Linked DNA regions of Homo sapiens: region 1 is reported to be linked to region 2. The links are microRNA targets in miRTarBase. Many come from high-throughput screens and were not tested one by one. Region 2 holds a microRNA gene; the other region holds the end of a gene's coding sequence.
What was found. Region 2 holds the annotated microRNA hsa-miR-223-5p (CGUGUAUUUGACAAGCUGAGUU, at 1,654-1,675, opposite strand). A microRNA usually pairs through its seed, bases 2 to 8, with sites in the 3' UTR of a target mRNA and lowers its output. Matches are read on the target gene's strand: a 7mer-m8 pairs with bases 2 to 8, a 7mer-A1 pairs with bases 2 to 7 and ends in A, and an 8mer does both.

Region 1: miRTarBase lists KCNQ3 as a target of hsa-miR-223-5p. Seed matches in the 3' UTR shown: 7mer-A1 at 4,178-4,184 and 7mer-A1 at 3,675-3,681.

Annotation. Positions count from the first base shown.
Region 1 is chr8:132,124,828-132,129,904 of GRCh38, forward strand. KCNQ3 (potassium voltage-gated channel subfamily Q member 3) reads right to left here. Exons shown (of 15, transcript NM_004519.4): 15 at 1-5,077. The coding sequence ends at 4,435. Among named protein-coding and RNA genes, the nearest start is that of HHLA1, 16 kb to the left of the region's middle. RefSeq lists enhancers at 4,006-4,506, 4,507-5,007.
Region 2 is chrX:66,015,493-66,020,569 of GRCh38, reverse strand. It overlaps MIR223 (microRNA 223), which reads right to left and starts at 1,700; the gene lies at 1,591-1,700. MIR223HG (MIR223 host gene) reads right to left here. Exons shown (of 3, transcript NR_170299.1): 1 at 5,019-5,077; 2 at 3,381-3,505; 3 at 144-1,746.

The DNA.
Region 1 (5,077 bases), not on the chromosome of region 2:
TACCAGCTATGTGGCATCTTCTGGGAAAGCACAGGGGTGGGAGAATCCTGGGGTGTGTTTGGCAGCACTGTCCAAAGTACAGTTGACTTCTTAGGCTGCTGAACAAATTTCTTCTCTTGCCCCAGGAGAATTTGATCTGCAGGTTCCCATAAGTAGAGTAACATCTTTCTCTTGAAATAGGTGCTGTGTCATAGTCTGTATCATAAGCTTCTCTTGGTCAACATAATGAAATGAAAGTAACTCAGCTCCTTGACTGGTATCAATCTTAGCAGGGATTAGGAGACAAGAAGAAAGCTGGTTTCTCCAACAATCTTCCTCAGATTCCCTAGAATCCCCCCTTTTTGCACAGCTTCTCTGGAGCTATGAAGTTCAAAGCATTGAATCCAAACTCGAAGTCCCCATTCAACCCACTCAGCCTTGACTGGGCTGATTGGATCATTGCCATTTTGATGTAGAACCTTTGCTCTCATTTTCATGTTCAATTTTCTATAGTTTCCAAGCTAGGAAGCATTTCTGTCTGTATAGAGTTGTTTGCAGGGATGAAATCAGGTATTTTATTTTCCTGGTAGACATAGTTTGAAGGGACCTCTGATGTTTGAGACCTCTAGATTCCTAGCATTTTGATGGCAGAAACTGTGGTTTTCTTATCTCTGAACTTCCAGTGCACTGCAAAGTTCTGGGCATATATTGGTGCTTAATAAACCCTGTTAAATGAATAAACAAATGATTTTTTCTTTATTACACCCCCATTTCAGTAGCATGGAATTATGAGGATGATTTTGCCAAATTATGAGTAGGTCCTATTAGATTAGGTTTTTCTACAGGAAATTATTCTTTCAAACTACAGTGTCTAGGAAGTACCTTGCACAAAATAGACACAGGATGCATAATTGTTGATTAATTAGTTCATTTTAACCTATACACCTTGGGGTTATCTAGTTATGTTTTCATGAAAACTAGGGCTTTGTAATATCAATGTCATGTCTAATAAGCCTAAATTTCCAGTTCTAAAAACAAAGTTATTCAACAACACTTTCTCAATTTGATGTGTTTTTCTTTTCCTGAAATAATTTTTTTCTTAAGCTTTTGATATTTGCTTTTGTGCTGACATTTGATAGTCAAAACTCAAACGATCTCAAGTACTTCTTTCTCAGCTCAATAGGATCATGTTTCGCTTAACATTTGTGAAGTTGATTTATCTAATTCATTTTGATCTTGCTAAAATATGACCTTTAAAATTTTTCATGTCACATTGTGACCCAGAAAGACCAAATACATACATGAGATCATAGTTTTACCTGATAATATCACTCCTAGTTTGATGATGGAATTAATTTGTCAATATTTCATGGAGTTCTGCTGAAACGATTGCAATTTCTTGGGCAAGTTTCAGAACGACTAGTATATCTGTGGTCATGTCATCTTGGGTCATGTTAACCAGTTCCATTGGATTATCATGCTGTTCCCTTGTCTGACAAAAGGATCTTTGTGAAAGCACACACTGTTTCTTCCCATAACTCACATTCAATTCCAGACCCTGAATTTCTGCTTGCTCACTGTGAGCCATATTGTTGAGATTGTCTGTGCATAGGCAACTTGAGCAGGTTTGGTTTGCCTTTCTGGAATATATTTTTTGGGGAACAAAAGGAGAATATCAAAGCAGAGTTATTCCAGAAGATCATTTTTCTCTTTTCCTTTTTGTTTTCTTAAATGGGAAAAAAACAGCTCTTAAGGTTCTTATTATTTATTCATTCATAAAACATGTATTTTGTCTATGTCTATACTGATAAAGACAACTTACTAGATGTTAGACAATCAATACTTCCCTACTACTGATCAATACAAACCCAATCTCTGCTGTCCTGGTCTTATGATCCAGCAGGGAAGCTAGACTGCCTGCCTATGGTTTAGGAAATAATACAAGCTCCAATCCTTTCTAGGTTATTAAAAGAATCTAAGGTAGTTCCTCCAATTTTGGATCAATGGTAAATACTTTAAGGTAGAACTCCATTGAGTTGCTGGAAAATGCATCATCTATTGGTAAAATACTTAAGATAGTAAGTTCTTCAAGAATACTAATAAGTAAGTTAAAAAATTAATTGGCGCATATGTGGAGAGTATGACTCACTCTCCTTTATTGTTGGTTTCCAGTAACTCATGTACATAAAGAAGAGCATAGTAACATGTTGGATGTTAGGCAGGTGATCATCTCAAGTGAAAGATTCCAGGAAGATCAGGATTCAATAATCAAGCCCTCAGGAAGGGGCATAGGGTTTCTTAGGTTGTAATCCCCACTGGCACTTTCAGCCATATTGAAGGAGTGGGGAAAAGGCCCAAATAACCCATGCCCTTTGTCCTTCAGATTGCCAGCATGTCAAATGGAAGCCCGTGGGGCTTCATGTCTGATGCATTGAGCATTCTGGTATATTTCCCATCTCAGACTTCAAGGTCTACACCCATCCATTTATGGGGCTCTCCATAAAAAACACCCTTCTGCTGCTCACAATGTCTGCCCTTGGCCTGGGACTTTGGGCTTTGGTTCTAAGTTCCTAAAGTCAGGGGTCAAGCTCTAATCATTACTGTATTCTGAGCTTTTTGTACAGTAACTGTTGACATGTGAGTTGAAAGGAACCTATCTCTGAGGAAGTGATTCCTCTCTCCAACATAGTGCCAGACTCTCGTATTAGGAAATGATGAAACCATCAACCAAATGTCTGCCATAGCTACTGTGGCTCTTGACAAGACTGTGAGGGAGAATAGCAGTGTCAGCTGCATACAGACATTTGTTTAGGTCATCTGGATTATCTTGATTGTCACCATGGCAACTATCCACAACCAGTGCCTAGGTGTGTGAGAAGAGTGATACAATAATACTGTGGCATGGTCATTTAGCTAATTCAGTCTAAGCCTAACAGAAACCTTTTCCATCAAAGTTTTTCAGAGAATAACAACATCTCATAAGAGGCCAGAGGATGGCTTGTGCTTAATATCACACCTGTACAGTAGGGCAGTGCTTCCCAGGCTGTCTGCTTACATTTTAGCTTGTCTTACGGTTACATATGGTTTTAGTATTTTCATTTAAAAAATCTGGGTTGGTTCCATAAATTTGGAAAAGTAAAATTGGACGGTTCTGGAAATTTTGCCTGTTTACACATCTGTAAATGTAGCTTGCTTGCATTATTTTTTTCTAGATCTGAAATGCATTGCATCAAGCAAGCATGTTTTGCAATAAAAGTGGAAATCCCCCTCCTGCTGGATAAACTGGGTGCTTTCCACGCGACACAAAGTCATATATCTTGACACAATCTCTAGGATGCATTATATAAATGGAAGAATGGTGTGGTGAGGGGAAACAAGGTCAGGGAGAGTGGGCAGACCTGACTTTTGAGTCCTGGTTCTCTATGGGACAACTGAGTGACTCTGGGTATGTCACTTTACCTGAGCCTAAGATTCTTCATTTATAAAAGGAAGTCCTTGGACTAGAAAATTTCTGTGTGCCTTCTTGACTTTAATTTCTATTTTAGATGGATATTTTGTACTTCAGTATCATGGGAAGAAATGAGAGTTGGAAATTCATTTTAAAGGCACTGAACTCAGCTCCTGCCCAGAGGGGCACTTCACTTCTGATAAATTCCATTGTCCTTGGCTACATAAATTGGAAACTATTTTAACTTTGTGTATGTGTGTGTGTGTGTGTGTGTGTGTGTGTGTGTGTGTGTTTTCTCCCTGCCAATTCATAACTCATCAGAAATGCTACACTTGGGATTACCACCACTTTTTACAGATAAGGAAACTGAGGCATGATACTAAGTAACATCAGGCCAAGTGAGGTCTTTTGGAGAGCTTTTAAAAGGTTTTGCCTTAAATATTTGTTTAAATTCTTTGTTTTAGAGACACAATGACTATCTCATTCCTTTCCTAATGTTAGCTCAGTAGGCAGCCCCACTGATACACAATGTGGTTTTGTTGAGAAAATTATTTCCTTGCTTTCAAAAACAGTTAATTGCTGGAGCGTTTTACACAAGAGGGCAGTGATCCTAGAAATAACTTAAACTACTTTCTCTGCTTACCAAACCAAAACCCAAACCAGCCAACCAAACAGACAAATAGCATGGCTCATCAGTAATTTCTCCCTGTACTGGTCCAATCGTGATTAAAAGTAAGAACAGCAGATAAATGTGTATCCTAGAAGAGATTAGCGGAACCATTTATATAGTGTAAAGTCATGCAAACCATGCTGAAAAGGAAGCACTTTGTTGTGGTGACATGGGGAGGAAGAGGCTGTGGGAAGCCCCTGCCTGGGTGGGGCCACCACGCACACGCATGCATTTGATGCAGCCATTGGTGTCCCCGCTGGTAAGCGTCGGGTGTAAGAGTAAGTGAACTATACAAAGTCTGTCTACATTACAAGGAGGGGTCAGCCAGTGACCTCTTTTAAATGGGCTTATTGGAAGGGGTCCATACTGAATCAGAAATCCCATCCCCTGTGGACGACAGAGGCATGGAGCCGCTGGGCGTGAAGGGGTCCGTGTCTGTGTCCGTCTCACCCTCGGCGAGGTACCGCTTCTCCCTCATCCAGCTCGACCCCCCATTGGGGCCGAACACATAATCATCTCTGTCCTGGGAGATGCTGAAGCCACTTGGAGACCTCTCCAGCTCCTCGTGGTTGACCGACATCAGGGACAGAGGTGTGTCACTGTCTCGCGTGATGCTACGTCTCTGCCGGGGGGAGATTCGGTCCGAGTAGGGGCCCTGCAGGTCAGCCTGGGAGTGGCAGCTCACTCGGGAGTCGAGAAGAGTCAAGATAGGCAGGACCGTGGGCCTCTCCACATACGTTGTTGCTGAGGAAGGAGGAGTTGCCTGAACCTTTCCAGAACTGGGTCCCCCTCGGGGCAGGTTCACAGGGTCATGTGCAAAAAACCCATAGGGGCTGACTTTGTCAATGGTCACCTGGTGGAAGCTGTAGGGTGGTTCCGGGGGGCCTGTCTCAGAATAGTTGCAGATGATGGTTTTCAAATCGGAATACCTGTTGTCCTCCTTCTTCTCTGCTTCAGCTGGCGAGGAGGTGCCCTTGGTT
Region 2 (5,077 bases):
CTCCCAGGGATATCTCAAAGTCATTAATCTTAAAGAGCCTAGAGATCACTGATTCTAATACTTCCGTATTGGAGATGAGAAAATGAAGCTCAGAGAGGAACAAAAACACAGTTAGTGGTAGAAAGGAGACCAAAAGTCAGGCCTGTGAACTCCTCAGTGCATATATTTATTGCAGCATCTGGATCTTCTTTGCCTCAAAACTTAGAATATTTTTAAATACAGGACAAGCTAGTAAAGAATTCCTATGTAATAAAGATAGTCCACAGCTGCAGAGGCTAAACAAAAATGAGATGATAACATGTGACCTTTCTTAGGCAGATGGCTGGTTGGGGAAAGTAGATGAATGAAAAGAGGAAAAGATCTCCAGAAGAGCGGGAAGGTATAAAGTTTCTCTAGGACAGTTTCCCAAATCGTGCTTCATTGGACATTGACACAGGAGAAGGCTGTGGGGGAAAAGAAAATTCATGATCAGATAGGTATGGCAAATGCCTCATTCTATGGTTTCCTCTTTGAGATTCTCAATGCAACATTAGACTATTAAAGGCTCTGAAAAATCCTACAAGAAAACACCTGTATAACCTTGTGTGACCAAGTAATACCAAAATTTATTTGCCCTCTGAGTCTGCTATTTTGCCCTCTTCCTCCAGCCCTTGACACTGTTTCTCAGGAAGAAAACATCCTTCATGCTGGCTACTACCTCATATGCTCTATAACATTGTGGTGTTCACAGTTTGAATTTTTCAAAATCCAGGGTAGAATTTGGCCCCCAAACCTAAAGCTAGTGGACAAGAGGAAAGTCAATCAATCAGTAAATATTTATTATTTTCTGTAACTAAAGTACTGGGCTGTGGTAGGGGAGACAACAATCAAAGACATAGCCTTGTCTTCCAGAAGCTCACAATCTAGTTGGGAATTCAAGAATACCCCTTAGAAAAGTTCATTGACAATTTACGAGGTGCTATTAGACAGTAGGAGAGAAAGGCATACATACCAGGGCCCAGGGAAGAAGAGCTTTGTGAATGAAGAAGGAAAAAGTGTAAGTTGACTTTCAAAAGTCTCTGGAAACACTGGACTTTAGCTGGTCCAGGAAATATAGGGAAGAATTGGATAGGCAGGAATAAATGGAGAAAGTGTTCCTACAGGAAAAGACATGTGGAAAAGGGGAGAGGTAGGCAAGATCAAGGAGTGTTTAGAAGGCAAGACTGAGTATCAAGAAAGTGAATTTCTAAGCCCTGCTTACTCAGATAAGCCATTAGGCTTGTGTGAGAATGCTGATGTCCTAGATAGGAGACTCTGGGAGGGGAATATGAAGGAAGAAAATAATAATGAATCAAAGAGCACTTCCATTCCTGGACACTTTATACATTTTCAAGACTATTGCGCCCCCATCAGCACTCTCATGGTGTGTGTAGACACAGCCCAGGGCTGTATTTCCCTGAGATGCCACACTTTTCCCCTGGTGTCCTCAGATATAATGCCTCAGTTCCTGCAAAGTCACATAAAATAACTTGTGAGAACTTGGTGCTTGGTGAGCATCCTTGTATCCAGCTGGCAGTCCATTCGTCATATCCCATCTGCCCTGGCCTAGAGCTGGTAAGCATGTGCCGCACTTGGGGTATTTGACAAACTGACACTCTACCACATGGAGTGTCCAACTCAGCTTGTCAAATACACGGAGCGTGGCACTGCAGGAGGCCAGGCCAAGAGCTTCTGTGGGGAAGTGAGATCTTCCTGGGAGATGTGACCCTAGAGGGAAAGAGAGAGAAAGGAATGATGAAGTCACACCCTTAGCCCCGGGGATCTTGCTCAAAGGACCAACCAAAGCACCAGAATAGGGAAGTGAGCAAAATAGGCATAGGGTTCCTAACCAGAAGAGAGATCCTGAAGATAAGCAGGTAAAGCCCGAGTGACACCCAGTGCTCAGCTGGAAGCTCATCAGGCCTGAGTCCTGTAGCTATGGCATTTCTAGGGGTCCCAAGCTTCAGTGGGTTCCTCTATGCAGCAGAGAGGGGAAAATTTGGTCATCATCCTGCCTCCCTGACTTGAGGAAAGTACCAGACCCTAGAGTCAGCATCCTTGCTCCCTCTTCTCAATTCTCCCAAGCTGTGTTTTCAGTGTTGTGGTTATGCACATAGGCTTTGAGGTTAAACATGAGCTTAAATCCTAGTTCTTCCATTAGCTAGTTAGGCAACCTTGGATACATCATTTCACCTCTCTGAGCTCAAGTTTTCTACACCCACAAAATGTATGTAAGTATAATACCTACCTCATAAGGTTATTGTGAGAATGACAGGAGATAATGCATGTAAAGCCTTTGGTTCAGTATTCAATACATAACAAATGCTCAAAAAGTAGTGGTTGTGTGACCAAAATGAAAGAAAGAGCTATTGGCAATTGATTTAGCAGGATCTGGACAGGTGTGACATTGATTTCTTGTGGTCTCAGCCTTGCCTAACATGATCCTCTTGTCCCATAGGGACTCAAGAATGGCAGCTATTAAAGTGCCCTTAAAGATCATCTAGTCTCACTCACTTAGGTTATAAATGAGATAACAAAGGCTCCTGTTGGGGAGGAGACTTGTAAAGTTTATACAATAAATTTTTTACAGTTCAGCAGTATGCCTTATACAGCTTTCCTCATTGGTTATTTTGCCTCCCTTCTCTGTATATCCCTCTGGGAAAGGGAAGACACATCAACAAAGAGGGCAAAAACAGGCAATAGCTTTGTAATGCAACATTTGGGATCACTGAACCCACAAGCCACCAGGGCAATAAGGAAGCTGCCAGGAGCAGGGTCAGGTCTGAAACTTCTGGGAGAATTCCCTTGGCAACAATCAGATCCTGTTGCTAAAAATCCCAGGTTGCTGGTGTCAAATTACTGCCCTTACCAGCTGTGGCAGTTGATCTGTGAGCAGGTAGCTGGTCTACATTAAATATTGTCATGAAAAGTGGCAAACATCACAAGGTTACCAGAAATGGTAAACTGCCCCCATGAGGCCGGAAAGCCCTGTCCCAGCCCAGGTAAGACAGAGGGATTCAGCCTTGTCTTTCAGCAAGAAAACAATCAGTGTCTTTTCTTGCTCTATTCTTTTAATTGAATGTTAAGAAGGTAACATACTCCTTCAATTTAAGTTCTGGCAGTCATCTCAAAACTAAAGCTCTTTCACTCCCTCACTTCCTTTTCTACCTACCCAATTCAGCCTAATCCACCCAGCAGCAAAAGCAGCAGTCATGGTCACCAAATATGGCATGACAGAATCGACAAACTTGTGTTCTAATGCTGTCTTGGCCATCAACTAGCCAATCATGGCTTGGGCAAGTCTTTCTTTGGGTTTCAGTTGTCTTCTCTGGAAATGAGAACAAGGAGACTTACCTACTTACCTGGCAAAGTTGTTGGAAAGTGTTGCTAAGCTTTCCAGAGCCTCCCACATAGGAGCTCAAAAGGACCTTGTCTCAGCCCCTGGACCTATGGTTGGAGGCCAGCCAAGCAAGCTGATTAACAGAGTCTGAGTTGGGGATGGCAGGAGAAAAAGAAATGGATTGTTACCTTTTTTGTATCATTACACTCATTGGCTGTCAGCTCCAGTAAGAAGACCTAGATAAGCTGGAGGTGTTCACAGCCTTTTGAATGCACTTTCTGACTTTATTCACCTCCAGAAAGGCTGGAAAGGAGGCATGAAAGGGGCTAAAAATTATTAGTACTTTGAAATTTGTGGAGCCTTATAGACAACATTGCTTCAGTATTAATGGAAGGAGTTAGTGGTTGAGCTGAAACTAGACTGGTATGCCTCTCCAATGGAGTGTATGTAAGAAAATCACATTCAGTTGAGAAATGTTCACCAGACCCATAGAAAGAAGACATAAATATCTATATGGGATGATATTAAGGGAATTTGAAAGCTCTTCTCTTGGTCTGTTATATTACTTAGAATAACATCATTTTTCCCCATATGAAATGCAAAATCCTCTACTGAAGAGCGTCATCAAGCCACTATTGTTGATGCAAAGGATGGGTCAGTTTTTATGGAGGGAATTGGAGGGAATAGACCAGAAGAATTAGGGGTAAGTAGGTGTCTAGGAATCTCTGAACACTCAGAGTGAGCCAAGTACCTGAAAGAAAAATAGAAGAAAAGAAGAAGTCCTCAGGACCATGCCTAAAAATCCCAGACTGCCTCTAGTATGAGCAGGACCTGTCCTGGGTCAGTTACAGGACAGGTCCTGCTGCTTGATGTCTCAGTCCTCCTAGGATAGAGCAAAAAGAGGACTGACCTGGGAGCCCAGACCCAGCTGTGCTACAGATTCTCTGTATGACTTTGGGCAAGTCCCTTTCTTCCTCTTTCTGGACCTCAGTTTCTTCCATATGTACCTAGTCTCTAAGAGTCTTTCAATTTTGAATCTCTAGGAGTCAAAGATTGGACTAGAAAAGAGGCTTTCATCTTTGAGTCATGCCTCTCAGAGAGTGCTATATGGATTACCACCAGCACTCTCCTCTTGAATGTGTTCAGCCCCACCCACAGTTACATATGCAAAGATTACTCTCATCTTCTTTCTTGACAGAGGGCTGACAATCATGAAAATTAGGAATCTAATAACCATGGGTCTCTAGACAGCATCTATCTAATCATTCTTTTCCTCTTTTTACTTTTTTATTTTGCAAAAGGGGTGAAAAAACTGTGTCCTAGATTGGAGAAAGGACTTACCCAAAGATACACATTGGGTAAATGGTAAAACCAGGACTGCTACTCAGGTTTCCTGACTCCTGGGTCCAAAGGCCATTCCACTTCCATGTGACTATCTCCTAAACATCCTGATTGGATAGAAAATATCCTATCCCCTTTTCCCCTCCATTAGAACCTCTAGGATAAAAGGCCAATGGAAGCCTTCTTCCTCCCACCTTTGACCTTAATCCCTGAGGAGGGTCTGAAGAGAATGGGATGGGCAGATCCAAGCCACCCTTGGCTGCCATGGACTCTGCCCCAGCTTGAGAATCCAAGAAGAGAGGGCAAATGGATACCATACCTGTCAGTGGAGTGGTGCCTTGGTCATGGAGGGGACTCTGATTCCCCAGTGCTGAGCCA